Regions from separate parts of the Homo sapiens genome. Here region 2 is linked to region 1. The links come from fine-mapping of genetic effects on gene expression. A gene starts in region 1. The other region holds a variant in brackets. All regions are shown on one strand. Distances are from middle to middle.

Evidence for each region. PIP is the estimated chance that this variant, and not a neighbour inherited with it, causes the effect.
Region 2: its variant is the best candidate, but not a certain one, in a credible set for the expression of ISLR in tibial artery (GTEx, PIP 0.68).

The regions. Positions count from the first base shown.
Region 1 is chr15:74,170,769-74,176,132 of GRCh38, reverse strand. It overlaps ISLR (immunoglobulin superfamily containing leucine rich repeat), which reads right to left and starts at 2,423. Exons shown (of 2, transcript NM_005545.4): 1 at 2,114-2,423; 2 at 1-1,282. The coding sequence starts at 1,274. RefSeq lists enhancers at 713-1,701, 1,702-2,689, 2,690-3,678.
Region 2 is chr15:74,309,125-74,314,488 of GRCh38, reverse strand. All of the region lies in intron 11 of CCDC33 (coiled-coil domain containing 33), which reads right to left. CCDC33-AS1 (CCDC33 antisense RNA 1) reads left to right here. Exons shown (of 2, transcript XR_007064711.1): 2 at 2,531-2,975. Among named protein-coding and RNA genes, the nearest start is that of CCDC33-AS1, 7.9 kb to the left of the region's middle. The variant G/T (reference allele first, on the strand shown) is at 2,178.

The DNA of each region.
Region 1 (5,364 bases):
AGGAAGAAGAAGAGGAGGAGGCTTTGGCCCAGCAGGAGCAGGCCTGGGGGCAGCTGCCCAGGGACCCCTTCTGCGACTGCAGCCTCAGGGTTCCCAGCACGGCTGAGGTAGATGATGACCACATTGTCCTCCGGCCCTGATGGCTGCACCTCGTTGTCAACCGTATAGCAGCCCTTTCCCTCAACCGCTTTGCCATGGAACCTGCGCCCCAGTGTGTCCTCACCACCCTCACCGGGCGTGGCCAGTGCCACGTCCACTGAGCTCTCAGCACTGCCCAGCTCATTGGTGGCCAGGCAGCTGTAGGTGCCTTCCTCCAGCTTGCCAAAGTCGGGGATAAGCAGGCTGCCATTGGCAAAGGCCTGGAAGCGCGGCTGGGAGCTGGCCACAGGGGTGCCAGGCAGGGCACGCCCATCAGTGCCCACGTTGGGGCTGGTGATCTCCACAATGCCACTGGGTATCTGGATGTGCCAGTGAAGCTGAGGGGCCGGCTGCCCGTCCACATCACAGTGCAGTGCCAGCACAAAACCAGGCCGCAGCTCGGCACCATCCTGGCTGGGTTGGTAGCTGAGCTGCACTGAGGGCGCCGAGCATGGCAGTGGCGGCAGGCGGCTCAGCGGCGTACCCTTGAGCACATGGGGTGAGGTGCAGGCGATGTTGTCCTGCTCCGGGATGGACACGGCCGTGGTCAGGGCCCATGTCTTGAGCCACACGATGCCGCAGGTGCAGTCGAAGGGGTTCTCGTTGATCTGCAGGTGGGACAGCGCGGTGAGCGGGGTGAAGGTGCCCTCGGCCAATGTGTGCAAGCGGTTGTGGTTGAGTTGCAGCGAGCGCAGAGCACGGAGGCTGCGGAAGGCGTCGCGGGGGATGAAGGTCAGCTCGTTGCTGTCCATCTTGAGCAATTGGAGGGCACTGAGGTTGTGCAGGTCGCTCCAGGCAAAGTCAGAGATGAGATTGTGGCTGAGGTCCAGGCTCTTGAGATGGCTCAGAGAGGCCAGGGCTCCGGCGGCCACCGTGCGGATCTCATTGTGTGCCAGCCACAGCGACTGCAGCAGGGGCACCTCCCTGAAGGCACCCTCCGGCAAGCCTGGCAGCCGGTTGGCTGACAGGCTCAGTGTAGTCACATTGGCCGGGAAGCCAGGCGGCACGGATTCTAGGTCGCGGTAGGCACAGTCGGCGATCTGGAAGCCATACTTTTCCCCACAGTCGCAGGGCTCAGGGCAGGCCTGAGCCAGGCCCAGGAGAAGCGCCCACCAGAGCAGATGCAGCTCCTGCATGGTGCCTCCTGCAGAGAAAGGCATGTCACCCAGGGGATCCCGAGAACCTGCCAAAGGGACTCATTCCTCCCACAAGCCCAGCCAGAGCTCTTTCCCATCAGGAGGCCCTGTCCCACATAACCCAGCTAAATCCCAACACCACCTAGCCCACCGCCCCCATCCTACGGAAGGAGAAACTGAGGCCAAGAGAAGGGCGGAGACTTGCCCGAGGTCACGCAGCCAGGCAGGATGAAGACGGGATGGAAGAGGACCCCAGCTCCTCCTCCGAGTGGAGAGTTCTCCCTGCCTCGGCCTGTTCCTAGCTGACTTTATGACTTGAAATCTGTTTTCCAGCCACCCCCCTCCCCCAGCACTTTGCAGAACCTCCCCCTGCCCTCCCACATCCTGGCCGCAGTCCCTCCCACCGGAGCCCCCCATAGGTATGCTTTGCCTTGGCCCAGACGAGGCCCCTTGTGCAGTGCACACCACCCCCATCCACTCCACCCGCCCTCTCCCGCTCCTCCGGCCATGACCGCAGCAGACACCAGGCCTTTTCTGTGGAATCACACCCGTGGCCTGTTCTGTTCAAACTTAGCCAGGCAGCTGCCTAAATAAACCCCCGCCAGGACCTCTCAGCTGACTTGGGTGAGGCCAGAGGCTCAGCCCAAACGCAGCTGGGATTTCTGGGGCCTCAGTTGTGGGTTGTGGAAGAAGCAGATGCCCCCTGGACGGCTCCAAGCTAGGGATTGTCCCACGCACCTCAGACCAGCAGGGATGGACCAAGAGGGAACCAGCCCCTATGTCCAACAGGCCTCCCGCTCCCGCCGCTGGCCCTGGAGCCCTCCTCCCCACTGGCTTACCTTCAAGCTACTCTTAGTCAAGCGGAGCCTCTTCTAAGGTGGAACCAAAAAGCAACAGAGGACCTTAGCCCTGAGAGTCTGCAGGGCCACGGGCGCCCAAGGGAGGACTTGGATGCTGGGGCGAGGGGCAGCCTGGTCCCACCCCACCTTCGATGTGCAGGCCTGTGCCCTCCCTGCCCCAGACAGGGTGCCTGGAACCATCCACTGAGAGGAGGCGGCAGGGAGGAGCCCGGGGCAGCCCGCGCACTCCCTCCTTCCAGCAAAACAACTGCTTCTCTGCAGCAACAAGGACCTGTGTTTCATAAGTGACACCAGAAACTTGAGGGGGGAAGAGATGCCAAATTTTTTTGGGTTGTGTTTTTTCTCTCTCTCTCACTCACTTTTAGCAGCTTCAACTTCCTTAAAGACACAGCACTGTCTGGAAAGGACCCAAGAAATGATGGGGCCAGGAGGATTTTAGCGGGGGAAGGGCGAGAAATTGAATCTCATGGAAGGTGGGAGATTTCCACTTCAAACAAGAAAAAACGGGAAGCTTTTGTCCAAGCCAGGGTTGTATGTGTGTTGGTGTGTATACGTGTGTGTGTGTGTACAAGTTTGTGGGTGTGAGGGTGCGTATTTCTGGATTTGTATGTGTGTTTGCATGGATGTGGGTATGAAACCATGTACATGAGTTTGTGTGTGAGTGTGTGTGTGTGTCTGTCTTGGTGTGGGTTTGTGTGTGGAAGTGAGTGTGCATCCATGTGTGTGTGTTTCAGTGAAAAGCCAAGAAGGCCAAAGTGTACAAAGCAGATACCAACCCTTCGGTGAAAGCCAAGATGTTAGGCATTTTTTTTTTTTTTAAGAAAACATATCCTGCTGGCTCTGAGACTGAGCTGCGCTAAATGCATGTTGTTGTCCAGGGAGCTCCCAAGACTCCAGGCCCCGCCCCTCACTGCGCTCCCCACTGGCTGGGGAGGAAACAGGGAGGCCTGGCTCAGAAAACTCAGGGCGGGAGCCTGTTGACCTTCAGTGCTCCTGGCTGGGATTCTGAGCCACCCAGGCCCACTGCCCACTGGGCACCCAGAGGGGAGGCCAAGGGGCCGCACTCCCGGAGAGTTCTCTCTGTGTCCCCCACAGGGCCCAAAATCCCACTGTTGGTGCTGGACATCTACGCGGTCAGCATCGGCCTCTCTGAGCTCCACTGTTCCAACACCAACTGTGTGGAAGGGGCAGACGCCTCCAGGGTGAGGATATGTGACCCCTTTTCCAAACGGGAAGGCCCAGGGGAGGGGAATGGGGAAACAAAAGAGGCCCAAAACGAGGGAGCTGGAAGAGAAACCGAAAGATGAAGGAGCCCAGAAAAGAACTTTGTAGACTGAAGAATTTTGCTCTCCACAGACAAGCCTACCGTATCCCCTCAGTAGCCCTCCCCAAGCTTCCTTGGCCTTCCATCTGATAACTGGTTGAATTCTGCTCATGACTCAACTTACCCTCTCAGCAGGGCCAAGGGCAGACAGGGCTCATCTTTGGCTGAAAGCATCCCCAGGAAGCCTGCCCCAGCTCATCACACCCCATTCCCTGTCACCAAGCAAGGCCACAGAAGTCCCCAGCATGCTGCCTGCAAAACACCCGAGTCTGATGCTGAGGATATTATTATGGTCCAATGGAGAGCACCCTCTCTTTCCCCTGCAGAGGAAGCCCTCTCTTGCATCATCCTGACTGTGCTGGAGAATTTCTAGGAAAGTCCTGAATTTGGTGGGCCAACCAGAGGCTGCAAGAAACACATCCAGGGTTCAGTAAACCAGAGGGGAGACTCAGTGACCTCAGTGTCAGTCAGGGAGGGCTTCCTGGTGGAGGGGGCTTCACTATGTTCTGCACAGCCCATACACACACCCTCACCTGCACAAAGTCTGTGCCACCAGCTTTACCTCCAGGGTGCTCTGAGGAGCTCATAGTTCCCACCCCACCTCCCTCCTTGCAAGCACATCAGGGTCAGAGTACAAGCACCTCCTCAGCCCTCAGTTCCCAGTGACTGTTCTCTCAGACATTCCTGACTTTTCTTCATAGCTCCTCCTATAAGCTGTGATTATTTATTCATGCGTGCTTAATGTGCGACCCCTTACTAGAGAGGAAGCCCACTGAGGGCAGAGGCCTTAACTTCCCAGGTGCTATTGATCTCCAGCACAGGGAAGACACTCTGTAAGCGCCCCCTTCATGGCATGATGGACAAGTTGGGTGGTCATCAGAAGGAAGCATTTTAGAGCTCACCCACTTCATCTCCTCATCAACTTACAGATAGGGCCTTTGGGCCCAGGCTAGGGAAGGGGCATGCCCAAGACATTTTAGAGAATATTTCATACAGTGTAGGAGACCCATGCTCTGTTGGGTGGGTGAGTATGTCAGCAGCCTTCTGGGGGCAGGGAGTCTGTCCCCTCATTCCCTACCTAAGACCTTAATGACAGCCAAACACTAAGCTCAGACTCCCACCTCAAAACAGATGTGGGGGGCTGAGGGCGGGAAAAGTGGGAGGGACCAGCCCACCTGGGCAGAAATGAGACTGTGCGTGCTGGTCACTGATGTATCTTCCTGGTCTGCTCAGGTCCTGCCACTGCCTGCAAGGTGTGGCCATACCCGCTTCCACCAGGAAGGACAATAAGGCCGCCAGGATCTCAGCCAAGGACTATTGACTCTCCAAGGTGTCTCACAGTGGGACAGGTGGGCCTGCTCCTCAGCAGAGCCCAGGAGCAGTTGTGCAGGCCTCTGAGGATGGGGCGTATGACCTCCTGGGTTGCCCCTCTGCTCTTCTCTTGCTGTCAGAGCTCAAGTTCTTTCTGTAAAGCCCACCTCACAGGAGATCATGCCAGCAGGCAGGGAGACAAGTCAGAAGTCGGGCTCCCTGATCTTTTCAGGCTGGGAGCTTCCTGTGGGCTGTCTGGGCTGCCATCTCCCCTCTCCTGGCCTCCTCTAAATTGGGCTCAGGCCTGAGATGGGGACCCTTGGTGAGTATGTGCGGCCCTGACTGTCCCCAGAACTAGGAGGCCAAGCTTGGGAGCCCCTCCTGTGAGTCCTGGCCCTGTCTCCTGTGGGTCCCTGGCAGCTTGTAGGGTGACCAGCCAACAGTCCTGGTTCACCTGGAACTGATGGGTTTTCTGGGACATGGGACTTTCCATGCTAAAATCGAGACAGTCTCAGCAAACCAGTACAGTTGGTCACCCTAGCAGGGGAGGGGGGCTCACTCCCTCCCACAGTTTTTCTTTCCCCCTGCTCCCCTT
Region 2 (5,364 bases), 140 kb before region 1:
CTGTCTGCCTTGAGGTCGCCATGACCCTATAAGTGGGCAGCCAGGGTGGCAAGAGTGTGTCTCCTTCCATCTCTAGGGGAGGGGTGAGCACTGCCTTTCCCCCACCCAGGCCAAGGACTGAGGTCCTCCCAGTTCAGGATATACTCTTTGGCAGGCCCACTTGGCCAGGCCCTGTGGTGGGCACTGGAGACACAGATGTGGCCAAGGCTTGGGGTCTCTGTCCCCAAGTAGCTTGTATTCTAGTCGATGTGAGAGCAGGCAGTGTGGCATAGTAAATCAGTATGGCAAATGCAGTAGCGGGGGAGCCCCCCAGCCAGCCCCCTCCTCACCCTGGGGTGCAGGCAAGGGTGTATTGGAGGGTATGTCAGAGCGGGAGATGGGTTTTGAAGGATGAGTAGGAGTTTGTCAGGTGATACAGGCATAAGGAGGAGACACAGTCCTAGCACAGGGAACAGCAGGAGCACAGGTGTGGAGGTGAGCAGCAGCCTGGAACACCGTGGGAGTGCAGACAGGACACGCGGCAAGGAGGGGCTGGTAGGAGATGAGACTGGAGCGGCTGCAGGGTTCAGTCATGGGACCTTGGATGTAAGTCCAAGGCCCAGCTGTCAAGCCTGTTATAGGCAGGCAAAGTGGACTGGGCTGGGCCTGGATGCTGGCACCAAGCATGCTTGTGACCCTCCCAGAATAAGGTCTGGTTGCATTCTAAACAAATCCAATGTGCTATGCAGGACCCAGAGCCCAGACAGGGTAAGAAGTTGCCTAGCACTTCTGTGGCAGGGCCAGCTCAGCATTCATAGCCCTCCGGGGTTAGAAATCTGTGCTGGGCTAATCACCTGAGGTCAGGTGTTCGAGACCATCCTGGCCAATATGGCGAAACCCCGTCTCTACCAAAAACATAAAAATTAGCGGAGCATCGCGGCCAGCACCAGTAATCCCAGACACTTGGGAGGCTGAGGCAGGAGAATCGCTTGAACCCGGGGAGGCGGAGGTTGCAGTGAGCTGAGATCGCGCCACTGTACTCCAGCCTGGATGACAGAGTGAGACTCTGTCTCAAAAAAAAAAAAAAAAAAAAAGAAAGAAAGAAAGAAAGAAATCTGTGCTGGGGTTGGAAGGGACTGAGAGGCCTTCTGGAAGACAGAATGACCCAGAGAAGAGTAGGCTGGGATGTTGGCTGCCCAAAACCTCGGGATGGGGAGAGAGCCAAGGGAAAGCATCCTTGAGGTGCTGCCTTTTCTCAGTTATCTGGGTGGGCCACCTGCCCTGGCATCCTGGAGCCACCAGGCCATGACCCACCCCACTCTAGGAGCTGTCCAAGCCTTGGCCCCTGTACCACCCTTAACCAATGCTGCTCAAGGGAAACAGAGACTTCCAAGTGGCTTCTTAGCCCCTTCCCACCCCTGTGACTCAAAGATGTCACTGTTCTCGTAACAAGAACCTGCCAAAGCTCAGGCTATGGGAGCCAGAGTGGGGATCAGAACAAACACCCTACCTCCCAGCACCCAGAGGCAGCCAGCCTTCCAGGGCATTGTTTGGTTTGGGGTCTGGGGGCTTCCTCTGGAGGGCTGAGGCCCTGCCTGGTGGGGTCAGACTCAGAAGGTTTTGCTAGGGTCCAGGCCAAGCTTGGCTCAGCAGAGAGAGGCTGTGGGTGTTGAGGGGGAGGTGAAGGAAGATGAAGACTTGGCCTTGCCTTCAGGGGTCCTAGACTGAGGGGGGAGACAGTGTCCCACCCTGAGGAGCCCAGTCTGAGAGGGGAGATGTGAGCCTGCCCAGGAAGCCCCTATATGTATGAGGAGGGTTGCACTGTCACATCTGAGCAGGAGGCAGGACGCACACACTCCTGATAAGGACACATGAAAAGAACAGATGGCGCCAACAAGTGCAAATTAATTGAGCGAAGCCTGTGTACATAGGCGCTGTGAACAGGCAGGCTGATGGCTCAGGAGGGGTGGTGCGGGGGCAGGGCAGGGAGCAGGGAGAAGCTGTAACGAGCACTTACCGATGTCTCGCTGGATCTGCAGCCGGTAGCACAATTATTGACAAAGCCTGTCTATAAATCTCCCAGCCATGTCTTCAGAAACCTTAATTACGGGGCCTCATTACCCTTCACACCTCTAGGCACGGGGGACCCTCCTGGGCTGGGGCGGCTGCTGACACTGCGGCTGGCCTGCCATGGACAG[G/T]CTGAACCCCTTCAGGAAGATGTGCCTAGCGGGGGTGTCCAAGGGACACTATTCAGGACCACGTGGCTCCGAGGAACGAGCAGAGGCTCAGCCTCTAGGCAAGGGCAAGGGGGTGAAAGGGACTTTGGAACAAGGGGAACATAAGCTGGGTTTACATTCTAGTTTTGCCAGTCCTTCTGGACTCTGATGGGCACCTTCCCTCTCTGAACCTCAGTTTCCTCATCTGTACAATGAGGAGAGGGCTGTGGTGAAGATTACGTGAGCAAGGTCTGTCTAGTGTTGAGCACAGTGCCTGGCATGTGCTGTGTGAGTAACATCTGTCCCTTTCATCTCTTCTCGGTCACTGTCTGAAGCTACCAAGAAAGAAAAGCGGCCCCTGGTGGCCAGGAGCTGGCGGCCACAGCTGGACCCTGGTGTCATTCACAACACCACTCTCTGACCACTCTGTAAAGTGTGTGAACACAGATAAAACATAGTCATTGTCCAAACCACAAAAATGACCAAACTCCCTTTCCTGGCTAATATGAGTGACTGCTGCTTCTTTATTAGTGACCATCATTCCTGCCTTCTCGATGAGAACTCCTATGATACCGACTCTTAGAATGCTGATTCTAAGCCAGCCTCCCGCTGTCATCTAACCCAGAGCAAAGCCTGTTTCCTCAAACCCTTTCCCAAATCCCCTAACACCAGCTTGAATCTGTGAAGTCCTTTCCCACACACTCTTTCTGGGATGCCCCGCAACTCCCATGGTTGCATCCCCCTTACTACAACGAGTCAATAAACCCAGAATAACTCCAACTTTGTTAAACTGCATGTGTGTTCCTGGTCGTTTTCAGCTGGAGGGGTTGAGATCCTGCTATTAGAGCCTCGTCTGTTTAGATGACTGTGCTCTCCAGGCCTGAATCCTAGGCTCTCATTTTCACATTCTTCCCTCTCATTATTTTTGCGAAGCATGTGCCCACTGTGTCCCATTTGTTGTCCTCACCCAGGCCAGGAGAGAACACACTGGGGTAGGGGGTGTGGAGGGGAGAGATGCTGGGGGCACCTGCCACATCTCTCCCTGGGGGAAGGAGCCCTGTCTGGACATTTGGGGCTCTTGGGGGATCCAAGGAGGCCTAGACCATCTTTAGCCTTGGGAGGGACCATGGGTAGGGGAAGGGACCAGGGTGATGGGAGCTCAGTGTCACAGGAGAGCAGAGGTGGGGTGAGACCACCCGTCCTGCCTCCAGGCCTGTGCTACAGGCCCCGTGCGCCCTGTCCAGGCAGATCACGGTCCTGCCTCCAGCCTAGGCCACAAGCCTCCTCCCCAGCCCTGTGTTGCGGAAAACCACCTCACTGCTGCCAGGCTCCAGGCCACCCCAGAGCTTCACAAAGTGCTTCAGCCATCAAAACCCCAGTAATCCCTGTGTTCAGCTTTGCCTCTTGAGGCTTGAGCCTCAAGGCAGTTGGTCCTTTCAGAGCCCCCCACCTCCCCTGCCTGTCACCCAGCCTCTTTTGGCCTCAGTTCCTCTCACACCTCACTCTCCCCATCCCTGAGAGTCCCCCATGGGAACCTTCTCTACAGCCTGCTCAGCCTTGCCCACTGCTCAGGTAATGGAAATCCAGGGCCCAGACCTCACAGATGCAGGTGGCAATGAAGGGAGGGGGCTTCCTGGGGGCAGCACTCTCGCTGCTGGCGGGTACCCTCCCTGCTGGCTCTCTCAGGATGCCCCCTGACCACCTCAGGCCCCTCAGAGTCGGTCTCAAAATTCAAATTTCTTTTTTTTTTTTTTTTTTGAGATGGAGTCTCCTCTGTCGCCCAGGCTAGAGTGCAGTGGCTTGATCTCGGCTCACTGCAACCTCTGTCTCCTGGGTTCAAGCTATTTTCCTGCTTCAGCCTCTCAAGTAGCTGGGATTACAGGCATGCACCATCACGCTCAGCTGATTTTTGTATTTTTAGTAGAAACGGGGTTTCACCATGTTGTTCAGGATGGTCTCAATCTCTTGACCTCGTGATCTGCCCGCCTCGGCCTTCCAAAGTGCTGGGATTACAGGCATGAGCCATTGTGCCCGGCCTCAGAATTCAAATTCTGATTAGCCAGACCTTCTGCACCAAGCACATCTCCAGTCCTGCCTCCTAACCATCTTCCCAGAGTTGTTTTTGTTTTTATTTTGTTTGAGTCAGGTTCTCACTCTGTCATCCGGGCTGGAGTGCAGTGGCGGGCACATGGCTCACTGCCCGCAGCCTCAACCTCTTAGGCTCAAGCAATTCTCCCACCTCAGTCTCCCAAGTAGCTAGTATTACAGGCACGTGTCACCATGCTTGGTTAATTTTTTAAAAAAATTTTGTGGAGACGGCATCTCGCTATGTTACCTAGGCTGGTCTCAAGCTCCTGGTCTCAAGTGATCCTCCTGCCTCAGCCTCCCAAAGTGCTGGGATTACAGGTGTGAGCCACTGCGCTAGCTTCTCCCAGAGTTTTTAAGTTCCCCTCATACTTAAAGTCCAGGCTGTTCTGTTGAGATGGCTGGTGGAGGACTTGGGGGGTCTGGAACGGGTGGGGCACAGATCCATTTGTAGTGGATAAATAGATTCCCTGAAGGAGTGGCCAATAGTGGTGTAAGATGTGGGTCTTGGAGGGACCGAGAGAGATGGAAGCTTGTTCCCAGACCCTCTGCACTCTCCTACACTGTACTCTTCACTCCCCACTGTAGGAAAAAAAGGCGCCAGAAGCTCTTCATGGCTCACAGAAGCCGCTCCAGGCACTGTGAGGTTTTCACAGCCAGCCTGGGGATAAGGGCTAGCACTGTCCCCCTTTCCCAGCTAAAGAGACTGAGGTTCCTGTAGGTGCTGGCTGGGAGCCGAGTAGGAGGTAAACACCTCTGTGATCCAGACCACCCCTGGTCCACCAAGCTGCTCAGGAAGGGCATTCTGTGCATTCAGTGAGCACACACTTACTGAGCACCCACTGCACGCCAGGCACCTGGTGTGGAGGTGGGCGAGGGGTACAAGGTGGAGTGAGCCGGGAACACAGGCCTGGAGCTGGGAGGAGGCACCACTGCCATTGAGCATGGGTAGAATATTCTGGGTTCAGGTAAAGGCTTGAGGCAGGGGCTTCAGAAGCCCCAGGGCCCATCAGGCTGAGGGGCTCCTGTTGCAGGCAAGGGAACAATGCATGGGTTCAGGGCGGGGGGTAGCATGTCTAGATTT